Linked DNA regions of Homo sapiens. The protein of the gene in region 5 purifies or fractionates together with the protein of the main gene of each other region. This does not show direct contact. Each region holds a gene or a part of one and is shown on either strand. Other genes may lie near its edges.

What was found.
Region 1: the proteins of TINAGL1 (region 5) and SULF2 purify together in Homo sapiens (co-immunoprecipitation; one large-scale study listed by IntAct). This does not show direct contact.
Region 2: the proteins of TINAGL1 (region 5) and HSPG2 purify together in Homo sapiens (affinity purification with mass spectrometry; 3 studies listed by BioGRID and IntAct, with this or other methods). This does not show direct contact.
Region 3: the proteins of TINAGL1 (region 5) and AKIRIN2 purify together in Homo sapiens (co-immunoprecipitation; one large-scale study listed by IntAct). This does not show direct contact.
Region 4: the proteins of TINAGL1 (region 5) and LOXL2 purify together in Homo sapiens (affinity purification with mass spectrometry; 2 studies listed by BioGRID and IntAct, with this or other methods). This does not show direct contact.

The regions. Positions count from the first base shown.
Region 1 is NC_000020.11:47,666,981-47,670,498, forward strand, and holds part of SULF2 (extracellular sulfatase Sulf-2 isoform a precursor), read right to left. Parts: intron 1-3,518. UniProt on the Homo sapiens protein: Exhibits arylsulfatase activity and highly specific endoglucosamine-6-sulfatase activity. It can remove sulfate from the C-6 position of glucosamine within specific subregions of intact heparin.
Region 2 is NC_000001.11:21,829,311-21,832,828, reverse strand, and holds part of HSPG2 (basement membrane-specific heparan sulfate proteoglycan core protein isoform b precursor), read left to right. Parts: intron 1-222; coding exon 223-334; intron 335-1,032; coding exon 1,033-1,177; intron 1,178-1,266; coding exon 1,267-1,366; intron 1,367-1,504; coding exon 1,505-1,614; intron 1,615-1,738; coding exon 1,739-1,847; intron 1,848-2,737; coding exon 2,738-2,836; intron 2,837-3,224; coding exon 3,225-3,446; intron 3,447-3,518. UniProt on the Homo sapiens protein: Integral component of basement membranes. Component of the glomerular basement membrane (GBM), responsible for the fixed negative electrostatic membrane charge, and which provides a barrier which is both size- and charge-selective.
Region 3 is NC_000006.12:87,681,734-87,685,251, reverse strand, and holds part of AKIRIN2 (akirin-2), read left to right. Parts: intron 1-3,488; coding exon 3,489-3,518. UniProt on the Homo sapiens protein: Molecular adapter that acts as a bridge between a variety of multiprotein complexes, and which is involved in embryonic development, immunity, myogenesis and brain development.
Region 4 is NC_000008.11:23,296,390-23,299,769, forward strand, and holds the end of LOXL2 (lysyl oxidase homolog 2 precursor), read right to left. Parts: intron 2,559-3,380; coding exon 2,447-2,558; intron 1,734-2,446; coding exon 1,654-1,733; 3' UTR 508-1,653; downstream 1-507. UniProt on the Homo sapiens protein: Mediates the post-translational oxidative deamination of lysine residues on target proteins leading to the formation of deaminated lysine (allysine).
Region 5 is NC_000001.11:31,579,507-31,583,024, reverse strand, and holds part of TINAGL1 (tubulointerstitial nephritis antigen-like isoform 1 precursor), read right to left. Parts: intron 1-3,518. UniProt on the Homo sapiens protein: May be implicated in the adrenocortical zonation and in mechanisms for repressing the CYP11B1 gene expression in adrenocortical cells. This is a non catalytic peptidase C1 family protein.

The DNA.
Region 1 (3,518 bases), on a different chromosome or scaffold from region 5:
AGAGGGTAGTGAGGAGTGACTGCTTTGTGGGTACGGGGTTCCCTTTTGGGGTGATGAAATGTTTTGGAACTAGGTAGAGGTGTGCAACACTGTGAACCTATTAAATGCCTCTGCATTGTATATAATTGTAAAAATGGTGAGTTTGATGTTATCTGAACTTCACCTCAATTAAAAAGGAAAAAAAGTATCATGGATGTAAAAATGTTGATTTAAACTGGGAAAAAGGGGCCCTGCAGTGCCTGTCTCTGGGTAGAAATGGACGGGGACTGGGGAAGCCACTTAGCTTCTTTGAGTCCCAGAGAGCTGGAGGCTGCCCACCAGGTGGTAGGCAGGTGCTACACCCAGGTGGGCCGGCAACAAGGCTGAGGGGGGCTTTTGCATACGCCCTGACGCTGAAAACTCAGGGGTGCAGGCTGAAGTGACACCCCAGGTAGCCTGTATCTTCTATGTCTCAAAAACAAATCTGAGTTGGTAACATTAAAGAAAAAGGGGAGGTGGTGGCGGTGATGTAGGGATCCAGATTTCCAGCTTCCAGAAAGGAAACAGATGTCTCACGGGCCCACAGTTCCATATGGTCAGGACGGGCCGGGGATGGGCGGCCCCTTTGGCTGCCCACTGTCTTCCCTGTTGGCCACAGCCCCCGCCACTCCTTCCTGTTTTAAAACCTCTGCCCACCTGACACATGTCTGGCCCCAGCAGGCACGCACTGCAGTTGTCATCCTTCTCCAGATGTGCCTCATTTAAAGAGAAGGGCCTGGAGCCAGTTAGTGACCCAGGTTTTGTTGGATCCCAAGTGACCCCGAGATGGTGACCAAAGAGGACCAGCTGGAGGCAGGTGGTGGCGGAAGGCAGTGGAAGGAGGGAGGAAAGGGCTCCCTTCTCACGTGGCCCGGGTGCCACCCCCACTCTTGGGGGATGTTTTGTATCTTTCAGTTCTCAGACACCTTGCATCAGAGTCACAAGGGCCGAAGGATCCTGAGGGGCCGGGAAAGGCCTCCCCTCTCCAGCAGAGCCTTGGGCCTTTTCTGACACAGGGCAGCCTTCTCCTGGGCACTTCTCTCCCTCGGTTTAGTCTCCCGATGCAAGTACACAAATTGCCGAGGATGGTCCCTGTGCCAAGCAGGTCCTGCCCCGAGAGGCTCAGGAAATAGACCCAGCGTGTCCTCTCCACTCCTTTTGTCTCAGTCGGCTCATAAGTGAGCTGCTTTGCCTCTTTCCACCCTCCATCTCCCAGCTCTAGATTCAGGGGTCCCTAAACCATGGCCTAAGGGCCCAGGCCAGCCTCCATCTGTCTTTGTGAATACAGTTTCACTGGGTACAGCTGCTCGCATTCCCTTATACCTCTGCAGTCGCAGGGCTGAGTTGCAAAGCCCAAGACCTTTACTCTCTGGCTCTTCACAGAAGCGGTATGCCAGCCCTGTGTGAATCCTTTCCTGGACTGAAGCCACACTACCTGCTCTCCCCATCACTCTGTGTTCATGTCCAGAGTCCTGGAGGTACCCTTCCTGCCACACCAACAGGGAATGGGACAGGACTTCATAACCCGGCGGCCAAGAGCTTTGACTCTGCAATCAGATGGCTCAGGTGCAAACCCCTGAGCACATGTGTGGCCCCGGCGATTTGGGTAACTTCTCAGGATGGTGCCTACCCTACAAAGGCTCCTTGGAGGATGGCACGAAACGGAACTAGTGAAGCATTCATGCCTGATGAGCTGGTGTGGACCAGCTACTGCAGGGGGTGGGGACTCTGCCTGCAGCTGACGTCCTCACCTAAGGTGACAACCCTGGGCCCACTCCCTGCCTCTCCACGCCGGTGACCGCCTGTGTGATGTGGCTGCCCATGCCCATGGTGCTTCTCACCACCCTCGGCCACACCGGTCACCTCTCTGTGACTGGGACTCACCGCCCTGATTCTGAGCACAGGGTCTTTGTACTCCATCTTCCTCCTCCTCAGAACACTTGCTCTCTGGCTGGTCACAAGACCTGCTCCTTTCTGTACTTTGTTCTCATTAAATGTCCATTGAGCGCCATTCTGGAGCCGCCACCCCTCTCTGCTAGTCCCGCCACCGCTGCGTCTCCTTCATGCGTTTTTCACCAGCGGAAGTGGCCCTTTGTTCACTTGTTCACATCTTGTTTCATCCATGAGGTCCAAGTCCGTGTCTCTCCAGGTCAACTCTAATCTCAGTGTCTTGCACAAAGTTCAAGAAATGAATGAACCCCAGTCAGCTGGGCCCATCCCCCGAGTCCTCGTCCCCTTCTCCTGTTCCTGGGTCCCCCTTCTGCTGTGAGCTGGCTGGCTCTGCCTAACCTCCCCACGCCACAGCCAGGATCCCCGTGGATCAAGGTGGGCCAGGGCTTCCCAACCTTACCACTGCGGACACTTTGGGGTCAGATCAAACTCTGTGGTGGGGGCCGTCCTGTGCGTTGCAAGATGTTTTGCCGCATCCATAGCCTCTGCTCACTAGACGCCAGCAGCACCCCTCCATCACACACAATTGTGACAGCCAAAACTGTCTCCAAACATTGCCAAGTGTCCCCTGGGGGACAGAAAGCCCCCAGTTCAGCCTGCTCTAGGCTGACTGCTCAGAAAAGAGGGACAGAGTGTCTTGTCGGAGACTCTAGCAGGGGGAAGAATGCCAGGCAGGAGATGGGGCTGGAGTCCCCAAATCAGCCACGTGACCCAGTCTTTCCTGTCCATCATCCCCTGATGATCACCCCTGCCCTGCTCACAGGGCTGTTGAGAGGTGCAGGTCCCGGCTCTGACATTACACTCACATGAGGATTCTGACCAGGGCTGAGCTGACTCTCAGCTACTTTTAGGTATTTTTCTTTCCTCTAAGCATTAATAAGGGGAAAAGAGCTGAATTTCTCCCTGCCAGATCTTGTATTATTTAAAGATTATCGACTGTGCCACATATTGAAGCAAGGAGATGCTGGCTGTGTAATCCAATCTGGAAACCAATCATTCTGTTCAGCTAGAAAAGTTAATGTAGTAGTTCCTAATCAGCTGGTGAGGAAATGTAACGGAGGGTCATCAGCTGGGAAACGGTGTTTCAGGCAGTGGCTGGGCTGTTATGGAGAGAGACTTATCTGCTCCACGATGAAGACATTTGCTGCCTGGCTGGCTGGACCAGAGGAGATCACTGCGCCTGCCGTCAGAGACCTCAATCTCTAACTAGTCTGTGGTACAATATCATCCGTCTTATAAAGAATGGAGACTTTTTGTTTTTTTTGAGACAGTCTTGCTCTGTCACCCAGGCTGGAGTGAAGTGGCATGATCTCAGTTCACTGCAACCTCCCGCTCCCAGGTTCAAGCCATTCTAGTGCCTCAGCCTCCTGAGTAGCAGGGACTACAGGCGCCCACCACCATGCCTGGCTAATTTTTGTATTTTTAGTAGACACGGGTTTCACCTTGTTGGCCAGACTGGTCTCGAACTTCTGAGCTCAGGCAATCCGCCTGCCTTGGCCTCCCGAAATGCTGGGATTACAGGCGTGAGCCACTGTGCCCGATCAGGAAGG
Region 2 (3,518 bases), 9.8 Mb from region 5:
GTGAAGCAAATTCAGTTTCTTTCTAGGGGCGCTCAGTAAGGCCCTTGCGTTTGGGGCACCAGCCCTGAGATAGTGAGAAGGCCCTGGCTGTGTGAGGAGTGCCAGAGGGAGGGACAGGTTCCGAGAGTGGACAGGCTCAAGAGCTTGGGTGGTTTCTAGGGTGGGGGAGGACAGGGAGCCTGTGGCTGGAAGGGGGCCCCTTACACAGTGGTGCCCACCCAGGGATGCTGCTGTACAATGGGCAGAAGCGAGTCCCAGGGAGCCCCACCAACCTGGCCAACCGGCAGCCCGACTTCATCTCCTTCGGCCTCGTGGGGGGAAGGCCCGAGTTCCGGTGAGACCCCCAGCCTCCCCACCTACAGGGGGACTGGACACAGGGCTTTGGTCTGGCAAGTGCTACCCTGGGCTCCATTATACAAAGGAGATCTGGAGGAAGGAGAAAATGTGGCCGTTACCCTTGGTGACCACCCAATCTGCTAGAGTAGGAATAGTATGCCAGTCAGGTGGAGGAGGGTGCAACCTCAGACTTGGGACTGCTGCAGGCCAGGATTCATTCATTCATTCATTCATTCATGCATGCATGCATCAGTTATTTGCTGACCACCCCATGTGTGCCAGGCACTGATACAGGTAAAACAAAACAGACCAAATTCTGGCTCTTGTGGGAAGAGGTGTATTCTCACTGGGGAAGAATAAACAAGCCATAAACAGAGAAACAAGGTGATCACAGGGAGAGAGGAGTCCTCAGAGGAACAAGGAGGCCAGGTGCTAGGCTGCAGGGCGCTGAGCCTGGGGTCCCTGTGGGCTGCTCTGGGAAAGCTCCCAGCAAAAGGATGTGGGGAGAGAAGATCCAGGGGATGGGTCACGGGGAGGGACGACAAGACAGGGACAGGAACGGGAACAGCCCCAGGGCTGGGACTGCAGGAAGTGGTGACATCCCTCCTCTGGGACCCCTCTACCCAACTGGGCCCCTAGCCCTTCTTACAAACCCCCTATCCACTCTCTCCTGCCCCGGCCTGCCCCACGGAGCAGGTTCGATGCAGGCTCAGGCATGGCCACCATCCGCCATCCCACACCACTGGCCCTGGGCCATTTCCACACCGTGACCCTGCTGCGCAGCCTCACCCAGGGCTCCCTGATTGTGGGTGACCTGGCCCCGGTCAATGGGACCTCCCAGGTGAGACCCAACCCCATACTGCTACTTCCAGCCCTCATCCCGCCCTTGCCCAGCCTCTGTTGCCATTCCTGACTTCCCCACCTCCCCAGGGCAAGTTCCAGGGCCTGGATCTGAACGAGGAACTCTACCTGGGTGGCTATCCTGACTATGGTGCCATCCCCAAGGCGGGGCTGAGCAGCGGCTTCATAGGTGAGCCCCCTCCCCACCTCCAGCTGAGGCTGGGCCTTACCTGGCTGGCTGGAAGAGCCCTGGAGAGCCTGGGAGGGCACCTCAGGGTATGGGCTGGGACACCCTGCCCTGTGCTCATCCTGCCCACTCACCTCCCAGGCTGTGTCCGGGAGCTGCGCATCCAGGGCGAGGAGATCGTCTTCCATGACCTCAACCTCACGGCGCACGGCATCTCCCACTGCCCCACCTGTCGGGACCGGCCCTGCCAGGTGACCCCACACCCCACACACCACCTGGCTGCCGTGGCCTCCACCCCTAGCCATGGCTGGCCCCTGTGGGGATTATGGGGGGTACTGAATGTTCTCGGCCTTACTTCTGGGGGCTGCTTTGCAGAATGGCGGTCAGTGCCATGACTCTGAGAGCAGCAGCTACGTGTGCGTCTGCCCAGCTGGCTTCACCGGGAGCCGCTGTGAGCACTCGCAGGCCCTGCACTGCCATCCAGGTACGCACCCCGACCGCCAGTCGCTGTCGCCCCAGGGCCTGCCTCTTCCCTTTGCTGCCTCCCCATATCCACCACCATCTCAACCACTGGGGCACTTCCACACCCCCCACTCTCACCTGAGCACTCTCCACTCCTCCCATGTACCCATCCCCCATCTCTGCTACCCGAAGGCCCTCACCCCATCACTGCTGCTTCCCCTCCTCCAGCCCTGCTGACCAAATTCTTACCACTACCCCGCCACCCAGGCACTCCCCCACCCCCAGCCCATCTTTTTTTTTTTTTTTTTTTTTTGAGACGAAGTTTCGCTCTTGTTGCCCAGGCTGGAGTGCAGTGGCACGATCTCAGCTCACTGCAACTTCCACCTCCCGGGTTCAAGCGATTCTCCTGCCTCAGCCTCCTGAGTAGCTGGGAATACAAGTGTCTGCCACCACCCCTGGCTAAATTTTTTGCATTTTTAGTAGAGGCGGGGTTTCACTACGTTGGCCATGGCTGGTCTTGAACTCCTGACCTCAGGTGATCCACCCACCTCGGCCTCCCAAAGTGCTGGGATTACAGGCATGAGCCCCCACGCCCGGCCCCCAGTCCCATCTTATTACCCAGGTGCCCACCCCATTACCCGCCACCAGGTGCTCCCCCTCCAACACTGTCCAGTCTCTGAAGAACCTGCAGACACACAGAGTCCCTCGACTGCTTCCCCTGCAGTCCTCCCTGTGGCCTCTTCTGGCTCCCGCCTTGCTCTGCTCAGTTCCCTCCTCCAAGGCCTCCCAGGAGGCTGGCCTGGCCCTCACTAGCCCAGCCCCCCGGGGTGTGATGGGCAGACCTCTGGCATCAGGACCCCCCTCCCTCCAGAGTCACCTCCGTGTCTTTTCACTGGCCTATGTGCCCCCCAGAGGCCTGTGGGCCCGACGCCACCTGTGTGAACCGGCCTGACGGTCGAGGCTACACCTGCCGCTGCCACCTGGGCCGCTCGGGGTTGCGGTGTGAGGAAGGTGAGGGGAGCCAGGCCTGAGACCCCCAGGGTCCTAGTGTCAGCTGGGGAGGCTGGGTGGGGCACTCTGAGGCCATGATGGGCCCTACGGATGATAAAACGATTCCCAAGCCAGAGGATCTCGAAGTCACCTGGCCACATGTCTGCCCAGCCTGAGCCCCTTATTGAGTGAGGGCCCCCAAAGAGGACCCCTGTCATATTGGAGCTCCTCCCAGCCCCGTGTGCAAGGGCAGGGGGGCTCCTGTGCCACTGCAGCTGGTGCCAACTGGTCCTGAGCCTCTGGGCCTGGAGAGTGAGGCAGGCAAGGGTCCCAGAGGAAGGCAGAGTAGCTGGACCCCACCCGAGGGTCCAGGATCCCCACTGCCTCAGCTGAGCTGTGGCTGCTGCAGGTGTGACAGTGACCACCCCCTCGCTGTCGGGTGCTGGCTCCTACCTGGCACTGCCCGCCCTCACCAACACACACCACGAGCTACGCCTGGACGTGGAGTTCAAGCCACTCGCCCCTGACGGGGTCCTGCTGTTCAGCGGGGGGAAGAGCGGGCCTGTGGAGGACTTCGTGTCCCTGGCGATGGTGGGCGGCCACCTGGAGTTCCGCTATGAGTTGGGGTCAGGTAAGCACCCAGCACCAAATGCGGGGCTCTGCACACCAAGCCTTGTGCCCCCCTCGGCTCTTCAAGCCCCAG
Region 3 (3,518 bases), on a different chromosome or scaffold from region 5:
AGGCCATTGCAGTTAGCTGTTTGCTACTTGTGCAGTTGAGATCTTGGCCAAGTTAAATTGGACCCTTCACTGCATAACATTGTTGATCACATGTTACCAGTATTAGAGCATTTGAGGGCACAGTGTGGCTTAGATGACATAGTTGCATCATATTAGATGTAAAAAGCAATGCAGGCAATAGTATTAAAAATTCTTCAGCTCTTTAGCTGACAATATCAAGTGTTGGCAAGGATGTGGAACAGCTGGAGCTGTAATACTTTTATGGTAGGAATGCAAAATGACAAAATCACTCTGGAAAATGGTTTAGCAATTTTATTTTGTAAGAACAAAATAAACCCTTCATTTGCCATATGATTAGGCAGCCCATTCCCACTCCTAGGTATTTATCCAAGAGAAATGAAAACATGTCCACCAAAGACTGGTACTTGAATATTCGTAATAGTCCCAAATTGGAAACAGCCTAAATGTCCATTAACAGGAGAAAGGCTAGCTGTGTGTGTATATATACATACATATGATGGAATACTCACCAATAAAAAGGAATTTCTGATTCATGCAACATACATGAATCTCAAAAGCATTTTGCTGAGTGAAAGTAGTTCAGACATAAAAGTCTACACTCTTTATGATTCTATTTATGTGAAATTCTAGAGAAGGCAAAACTATGTAGTAATAGCAGATGAGTGTTGGTGGACTGTATGGGGGAGTGGTGATATTGGTAGTGAATTAACTGCAGAGAAGCCCAAGAGAAGTTTTTGGAGTGATAAAAAGTTATTTATCATAGTTACGTTAGTTCCAAAACTGTATGTATGTACTTGTCAGAACTCAAATGGATTGTACATTTAAATTGGTGAATTTTGTCATTTGTAAATTATACCTTAAAATTGTTAGTGATGTCCCTAAGTATCTGATGGTATGGAGTTTTACAAAGATAAAATTTTTAAAAGTTTTACCGTTTCTTAATTCTGGGTTAGCTTTCATTTGAGATTATCAAATGAACAAATTGAGGTTGTTATTATACAAGCATTCTTTTGGTACATTTTAGTTGTGCTTTGGTTGACTTGTGAAGCAGAAGTAAGACTAAATCTGAGAACAGCTATGTGGTGATAAAAGAACGTATATAAGTCACACAAAAGATAAATATTAAGGTCAAGTTACTCCAAACTAGTACCTCTTAACATCTCTGGTTATAAATAAATTTTATGATGTTTTGAATGGCACTTTTGATCAGGATAATGGTAGCTTTGGACAGAAAGTGATGAATATGAGTGAAGCTTACTCTCTCTCAGCAAAATAGAATGGCTGGGCACGGTGGCTCACACTTATAATCCTAGCACTTTGGGAGACCGAGGAGGGTGGAACACCTGAGGTCAAGAGTTCGAGACCGGCCTGACCAATGTGGTGAAACCCTGTCTCTACCAAAAATACAATTTAGCTGGGCATGGTGGCTCGAGCCTATAGTCCCAGCTACTTGGGAGGCTGACGCAGGAGAATTGCTTGAACCTGGGAGATGGAGGTTGCAGTGAGCTGAGATCACGCCACTGCACTCCAGTCTGGGTGACAGAGCAAGACTCCATCTCAAAAAAGAAAAGAAAAGAAAAACCCTTTAGATTGTTGTTACTGAAAAGAGGTCTGTTATTAAAAAATGAGGATATTTGTGTTTATCCTGGTTGATACTGGATGTTACATTAGTTTTATTGGGTACCTCTGGTGAATATTAGGAAACCCATTTATATCAAGGTATGCTTACCATTCAGTAGACAACTGTTTCATGCCAACACTGATAATTTAATAATTTAACGACTGTCACTCGATTGGAGTAACTTTGTTTTCAAATTACAAAGTAGTTCAAATAAATGGAAAAGAACTGAAAATGAGCATAACCCGTATTAAACAAATGTTAACAAATGAAAAATGTTAAATACAGCTAAAGCACCCCGACATAACCATCCTGAAATTAATCATTATAGACCTGTTTATGTACACATGAATGAGTGATTTTGTACTTAAACTGCACATTCGTGTATGTATAAACAGGTCTTTTTATACAACAAAATTTATGTAAATGGTATCTTTAACTGGATATGTCTTGCCACTTTTTTTTCAGTTTAAATAATGAAACAGGCAGTATCTAAAATGTTTAAGGAACTTATTTGTCCTCCCAGAGTCTCTCAAAAATTCTAAAAGTTCTTCTCCTAGGGAAATAAAGTGAGAAAATAAGTGACAGGATTTTGTAGATATGGTGGTTATCTACGAAAACCACCAGTATTAAATTTTAAAAAGAATTATTGTATGTAAATCTTTAGCTTTCTTTTTTGTGTGTCATAAAGACACGGTCCCTCTATGTTGCCCAGGCTGGTCTCGAACTCTTGGCCTCTAGTGATCCTCCCACCTTGACCTCCCAAAGTGCCAGGGTTACAGGTGTTGAGCCACCACACTTGACCAATATCTAACAGTTCTTAAATTAATGCATCATTGTAGAATTGAATGTTAAGGCTACACTCCACTCTATCAGTCTTTTTATTGCCACCTAAAAATTTCATTTTTGTTTAATCTTGCTTTGGATTTTGGTTAGTAAACTTCTAGGGATGTAGTTTCACATTGATAACCTGTTAACTTGGGAGCTATGGAGTATGGAGGTGTAGTGAGGAAGTCTGGAAGGGGAGTGGAAACCCCTAGGCAGGGATTTTCTGGAGGGGCCAGATGGTAATTATTTTGAGTTAGAAATCTTTCTGAAATGAATCATAGTGGCCTAAAGGATGTGCCAGATATAATTTTACTCATTTGTGTGATTGTGGTTCAAGATAATTGCACTGTGGTATAGTGGTTCTTATTTATTGAGGACCTGTCATGTACCAATCACTTTACATGGTCTCCCCCTCACCCTACCCTCCAGCCCCAAGATTCAGAATGCTGTAGTATTCTTAGGTTTTATTGAGCTTAAAATAATTGGCCATGGCCATTTAATGTATGATGACTTTTTAAGTTCCCATCTACTTTGTCATTTTGTTGACCTATTATCACTTCAGACTGTTGTGTGCTTGAATATACATAATCTCCCAAGCCCCTTCTTATTTATGGGCTTGGAAAAGGCATAAAGGCAGTAAAGGCAGTTGGAAAAGCCTGTTAGTGTAATAGTTCTATGTGATGAATAAATGAGCTTTAAGTTTGGAACTCTTAAGAATCTGAGTAAAATAGGTGTTTTGGTTCACAGACTCCTTGACCATTATTTTGACTGAAAAACTTTATTTTTGCTAGTCAGTGCTCAGCAAGAATATTGTTGAACAGCTGAATTCCAGTTGGTGTGTATGTGCTAAGTGAATGTCCCCATTTATGCTGAAATGAGTTCCTACCAAAATGTCAGTTTTCTGGATATTATTTGAAAGGAGTATTTTGGGTAGATTGGTCTACTAAATAATGTTGGAAAGCCAACCTCTTTTTTAATGTGAAAGTTTTTATCTTGCCAAATTTTAACTTTTTTATTTTAGAACAAATTCTGTACAACATAAAACAAGAGT
Region 4 (3,380 bases), on a different chromosome or scaffold from region 5:
ACTGGGCCTGCAGGGCCTCTGTGCACAGCCTGCCCAATTTTGGGAGCTGGGTTGCACCTGCTGTGTAGCACCTGCCCACACTCCTTTGGCAGTTCAGGTATCCAGCCTTCTGGCCTGTGCTGTGGGACAGTTCTGGGACCCCTGGGCTGGTCCTGGTCTTACCTGTCAGTCAGTGCCAGTTCCTGCAAAATAAATGTAAACAAAGGCAAGAGGTGAGATCTGAATGCGTGCCGACGCCCTCATTCAATTGTGGTTTGAGTGGAGTTGGTGCCAAGGTGGTCCTACCTACCCTCTAGTTTGCTGGGCCCTAGCATGCTGTTGACACAAGGGGAAGTCCCCTGTGTCTGGGTGAGTCGCATGGGCCAGCCACCCCCCCACTGCCACTGGGAATTGCTGGGAGCCCCTGTCCTGTGAACGGATGCCCTCTTGCTTTGATAAGCTGCCTGGTGGCTGTTGTTTAAATCTAGACTTCCCATCCAGCCCTCGCACAACTCCTATGCCTTCTGACAAGTTTCAGTAAAAACCACAGGAGTTCAAGAAAGATTATGACTCCTGTTCCGTTACTTTTTGTGATCTCCTTAGATTGCTTCTCCCAGATGGTAGGAGCTGCCCCTTTTGGAGTCTATTGAAGGAGGTGCCCTGGTGGCCACACTGGGCTGGAGGGGATCTGAGGACCCATGTCCACCGGAGAAAACCACGAATGTACCTGAAGCTCTGCTTCTGGCCACTGAACATAGGAAGCCTGCTGCTCAGGGCCCAGGTGCTGTGGGTCAAAGGAAACACAGACACGTTTCATAAATCTTTCTTTTATTCCAAGTTTCAAGTATGTGTAAGTGTCTGTGATGACACATGGTGCTCAGTGAGCGCCCTGTCACCCAGGACCCTGGTTATAGCACCGTTGAATCAAAAACCCACAGAATTGGAACAACAGGAAGATGAGTCACTTACACAGTGGGTTGGTTTTTCCTTAGATTTGTACTTCCAAGGGCCCAGATGTCCAATATTAAATGCCAATAAATTTGTGCTTCAAAAGTCTGTGAAAATATAATAATAGTATCTTGAAAAACAAGGGGTGGGGGCTGTGGATAGGGAAGCACCAAGTCTGAGCTCACCAAATCAGAAAACACGTGGCACCATTATCTATGTGACTATAATAGACTGGAGGGTTTCATTGGAAGAGAGGTCTAGATATTCAAGTTTGCTGAAAATGACCTAAGAGGAGGAGAAATGGGGTTCGGCCTGACCCTCTCTGGGGGGGCTGATGAGCCCGCATTTGTCCACGTGTCACTGGAGAAGAGCGCGGCTCCACTGTGTCTGTGGTGAGCTCGGTGGCTTGAATGGGACAAGCTGATGACAACCTGTCTGTGGGCCTCATCCCGGTCAAGACTGGCTCTTGGTGCTGCTCCAGCAGCTCTGTGGACAAACCCCACCCCCGCAAGGCCTTCTCAGGCCCCAAGGGTCAGGTAGCAGCCCCCCATGAATGATGGGAGGGTCCCTTTCCTCCTGAGCTTAGACACAGCTGTAGGGGTCTGGACAGGGTGGGGGCCGGGCTGGGTGAGGGCACGTGGCATTCGTTCAGACTCAGTTGTTGGGGGGAAGTCCCATGGAAGATGTGGTGTGGCCTGAAGACAGGAGTTGACCACGCAGGCTTCTTTACTGCGGGGACAGCTGGTTGTTTAAGAGCCCGCTGAAGTGCTCAAACTTTTTTTCCGTCTCTTCGCTGAAGGAACCACCTGAAGAGCGAGAATCGGGTAGAGAGAGTGGACAAATGAGATGCTCGGGCCTTGCCTGACCCTGAGCCAGGGGAGTGGGCCTCAGGGGCTGCTGGGGCCACCTGTGTGTGCCCTCCTCAAAAGGACAGGTGCCAGGCACTGGCCATCTCTAGGGCTGGGCACATAGCAGGTGCTCTGTCAAAGTTGAGTGAACGAGTGAATAAATATAGCGCCTTTAATTTTAACCTTTTGCCAAGAGTGAGGCCCATGACTTTTCCTGCAGAGGAAAAAGCTCTGCCTTCCCTTTTGTTCCCCAAGTCCTATCATCCAAGGAAAAAAGTGTCTTTATTGGAGACTAGAAATAACAGTAGTTTGCTAGCTTCCAGCTCTCGACAGAAAAACCTGATAGGCAGAGCCCACAGATTGCTGATGCCCACATTTTTGAGGTCACATACATAATGAGCCAGTGGCCTCAGCTCCAACCCTTAAAAAGCCTTGGGGTCTGCACTGGGCTGGCCTGGTCCTGTACCATCCTCTATCCGTGGCCGGAGCTGGCTGTAAAAACTCAGTCTCCATCCAGGCCTGTGTGTCTGTGGCTTCTGTCCTGAATGTGGAAATGTGATGCTGGCTGCATTCCCCGAGCTCTTTACCCAAATTAGGAAGCTGCCTCTGGGTCCTTGAGAAAGTAGGGCAGCTCCCGCCTGCTTCCTGGAGTGGGGGCGGCCTGGCCTTACCTATGTGGCAGTTGTACATCCAGATGCGGTGGCCGTCATAGCGGCTCCTGCATTTCATGATGTTGTTGGAGTAATCGGATTCTGCAACCTCGAAGTTGGGGTTAATAACAACCTAGGGAGAAGCAGGGCAGAGGAGGCTGCTTGTTCCCTCTGCGGCCACCTCCACCCAGGCCTGGGGCTCTGAGAGACCAGCACCTCAGGGAAGGGGAGCGTGGCAGGTGCCGGGACCCAAGACGGGGGTCTGTGGGTCTCAACAAAGTCCTTGGGGAGGGGAAGAGATGAGTCAGGGAGCAGAGGAAGCATGGCCTGGAAGAGGGAAACCCTGCCCTCTGTCCATATCCGTGTAACACACACCCCTCTACCCAGGGTGGGCCTTCGGAAGGGGGTCACCCACTCCTGGGAGTTCTGGGGAAGGCAGAAGTTGGGGTCTGGGGAGGCCCCAAAAAGAAGATGCTGAAGAGAAGCAGAAGGGTGCAGGGAGGACCTGGCGGTGTGGGAACCTGGAAGAGGGCTGCCTGGGCGTTGGAGATGGGACACTCGTCACAGGCGTGTGACTGTGGACATGTCCCTTCCTCTCTCTGTAAAGTGACAGGTGGGACTTGGGGATCCATGTCCCTGTCTGCTCTGCTGGCCGAGGGCCTGGCTCTGGGGCTGCTGGAGAAGTTGCACCCTCTCCCCATCCTTCCACCCACCCCTGTATCCGCATCCCCCCAGCTACAGCAGGAATAGGAAGGACATATTCTGGGAGAGTGTCTGTGAGGGAACAGAAAAGGGGAGGTTTACGGTGAGGACCCGAGGAGAAAAGAGAAAGGGAGGGAGAGGGAGAAGAGACAACAGTGGTGAACAGAGGGGCAGAGGACACAGATGACAGGCCTTCCCTCGAGGGTCCTGCCACATTTGGAAGGGCTGCGACCCACAGCAGGGGGGCGGGTAC
Region 5 (3,518 bases):
GATCCCATCCAGCCTGGTGGCTTTAAATGTCAACGTCTAGTTCATGATTCTCAAGTTTATATCTGTGGCCCAGATCTCTGCCTGAACACCAGAGTCAAGGATCTCACGGCTACTCAACATCACTACCCTGAACCAAAACACTCCCTGAACCGAATTCCTGACCCCCCTCACTTATTCCCCCTACAGTTCTCAGAAAACGGCAACTCTATCCTTCCTGGAGTTTGGGCCCCAAACCTGGCAGTCCCCGCTGACTTCCTTTCCCATGCTGATCCAGTTCATCCGCATATCCTATGGGTCTACCTTAAAAATGCATCCAGAATCCGAACCACTCTCATTCTCTCCTGCAGCCCGCCCAAGTCCGATCACCTCTCACCTGGATTCCTGCTGTGGCCTCCTCACTGTGGGTGCTCCATGCATCTGCCCCTTGCCCTGCTTCCCAGGGTATTTTTAACACAGCTGCCAGAGTGACCCTGCTAAACCTAAGTCATATCATGTCGTTCCTCTGCCCAAAACCCTCCACTGGCTTCACATCACAGAATAAGAGCCAAAGTTTGGTGACAACAAGGCCCTGCACGCTCTGTCCTCCTGTCCCCTGATCCCCTCCTCCTTCAAGTTCTGGTTCTAAGGCTCCAACTAGGCTGGCCCCTGATGGTTCACACCAATCTGCCTGCTCCCCTTCCTCCCCGCTTTTTTTTTTGAGACAGGGTCTTGCTCTGTTGCCCAGGCTGGAATGCAGTGGTGTGATCTCGGCTCACTGCAGTCTCTGCTTCCCAGGCTCAAGTGGCCCTCCCACCTCAGCCTCCTAAATAGCTGAGACTACAAGTGCACCACCACACCCAGCTAAATTTTGCAATTTTTGTAGAGATGGGGTTTTGCTATGTTGCCCAGGCTGGTCTCAAATTCCTGGCCTCAAGTGATCCACCCGCCTTGGCCTTCCAAAGTGCTGAGATTTACAGGTGTGAGCCACAGGCCCGGCCTGTTTATATTGCTTATCCCTGTTTCCTCATAGGCTGTAAATTCCTTGAGGGCAGGTATTGTTTGGTATTTTCAGCGCCTAGGAAAACAAAGCCTAGCACATAGTAAGCACCCAATGAATATTTGTTAACTGAGTCAATGACTGAGGCCATATGCTGAATTGACTAAGAGCATGGGTTCTGGAATTCAGATTCTGGGTTTCAGCCCACTGGCTGTGTGATCTTAGGAGAATCATTCAAGCTCTGTCTCTCTCAATGCCCTTGTCTATAAAATGAGGATAATACAGTGGTACCACTTTCCAGGGATTTAATGATAGGCTTGTAAAGCATTTAGCACTGGGCCTGGTCCATCATTAAGTGCTCAGAATTAATATCTACTATCACCATTCTGTTACAGGAATCCCAGACCCCACTTCTCTAGAGCTTCAGACTCATATCCCACTGACCTTCTGACATCTCTGGATGTGCAAAAGGCATCTCAAACTCAAAATAGCCCGTCTGCCTCCCACAAGCCTGCTCTTTCCTAACATCTTCAACTCTGAAAATGGCACCCAGTTGTTCACATCAGAGCTCCAGGTGGTCTGTGGTGTCCGCCCACATGTCCCCCATCAGCAGGGCTTGGAGATGGCACATGAGGAATCCACCTACCTCTCGCCCCTCCACTGTGGCCACCCTACTCCCGTCCCTCATCACCTCTCACCTGGACCCCGGCACTGCCTTATTCACCAAGTCTGCTACCCCTTAAAATTCCCGGCCATCCCCTCCCTACCCACCCCAAAGCCAGAGAGATCTTTGAAGAACGTAAATCAGACCGTGTGCTCTCTACGTGGCTTCCTGTGACTCCAAACAAAATGCAGAATCCTGGGCACAGCTGATGTGAGCCACGGAACGTGGCCTGCACCTCCTTGGGACGTCTCTCCCCTACCCCAGCTCCAGCTAAAATGAGCTCAGTCACCTCCCGGCCTTCCCACGAGCCACTCCCTCTGCCTAGGCCAGGCCTCTCCTATCCTTCTCCCTGGTCTCAGCATAAATGTCCCTTCCTCAGAGTAGCTTTCCCACCCACTCCCTACTCTAAACTGGGACCCCCGTTATCCTCTCTTTTCCCTATAACACTGGGCAGCTTGTCAGAATATACTCATTTGTTGTCTTCCCATGCCCTTCACCTTACACTAGAAATGGGACAAGGACTGTGTCTGTTGCATTCCCGCTCCATCTCCTGAGCTCAGCATAGTGCCTGTCACGCAGTAGGTCTTTAATAATAGGTGCCGACTGAAGGGCTGCATTCTATGAATTCTATAATGCTTTTACAAGCTCATAACTCTGTTATTACAAGATGCTGAACTGCCTCCTTGCAAGCTGTCCAAGGCTCCCACCTCCAATGTTGCCTTTTAAGGAGCCTCAAGGGGAGCCAAGACCCAGTATGGCTGGGCTTTCCAGCCCCAGGAGAGGCGGGGGCACTGCTGGGGAGGGCCAGAGGAGTCTGCAGGGCCGGGAAGGCTTTCCTCATCCTTCCTTTCCCTCTCTGCACACCAGGCTGTTCCCCCTCTGCACACCTAGGCAGCAGCACCCGACTAGACTCTGGAAGCATCCTTTGAGGGCTCTGACACCCTGGACACTCCCCCACCCTCGCCCCCAGAGCCTTCATGAGGAGAGGGCAGTAGACTGTTCTGTCCTTTCCTGCCATCTCCTCCTTTGCCCCCAGGGCTGCCCACACAGGTCCAGGCAGGGCCGGTGGTAGCAGGTCCCAGCATTCCAGAGGGGGCCTAAGGGGCCAGGGACAGCAGTGAGAGAGAGAGAGACAGAGAGAGAGAGACAGAGAGAGACAGAGAGAGAGAGACAGAGAGAGAGAGAGAGAGAGAGAGAGAGAGAGAGAGAGAGAGAGAGAGAGCGCATTAACCCCTCAACGTCCAGAGCCATCCTATCAGAACCTGCAGACGCGGGCCAGGCATGTTTTATCCTTTTGAACACACACACACACACACACACAGTGCACACACAGTCACGCTGAACACCCAGACACATGCTGAAACGTTCCCTCCCTCACTGTGACCCGGGCACCCCTCACCCTAGTGAGGCAATGGAAATATCTTATGCGCAATGCATTCCAAAAAGTTTCCTTCTCTCTGGGGCCTCTTAGTCCCAGGCAAAGAGGGAGTGGGGGTGGAGTGGGTGCAGGGCCGCCTCCTCCAAGTCGCAGGCTCCCCATTATTTCTATTAAGGCTTTCAGGGTTTCCTACCTGGCCCTTCTCCACTTCCCATCTCAGACTGAATAGGGGGGTACCCATGACCCCTTCCTCCTCCTACTGGGAATGGTGGGGAGGGGTGGGGAAGGAAAAAGGGGCCACATTTCAGGGAAGGCCCTGCTAGAGGCTGGCTGGCCGCCCGCTCAGCCATCCCTGACCCTCATCCGCTCAGGGCAGCGGATGCTGCAGTCAGAGCTTTCCTTCCTGGCGCCCCCTTCTCCCTCTGACTCTGCAGTGACAGCAGGAATAGCTGGGAGGAATAGCCCAGCCCAAGCCAGGAGGGGTGGGGAAGGATCTCAGT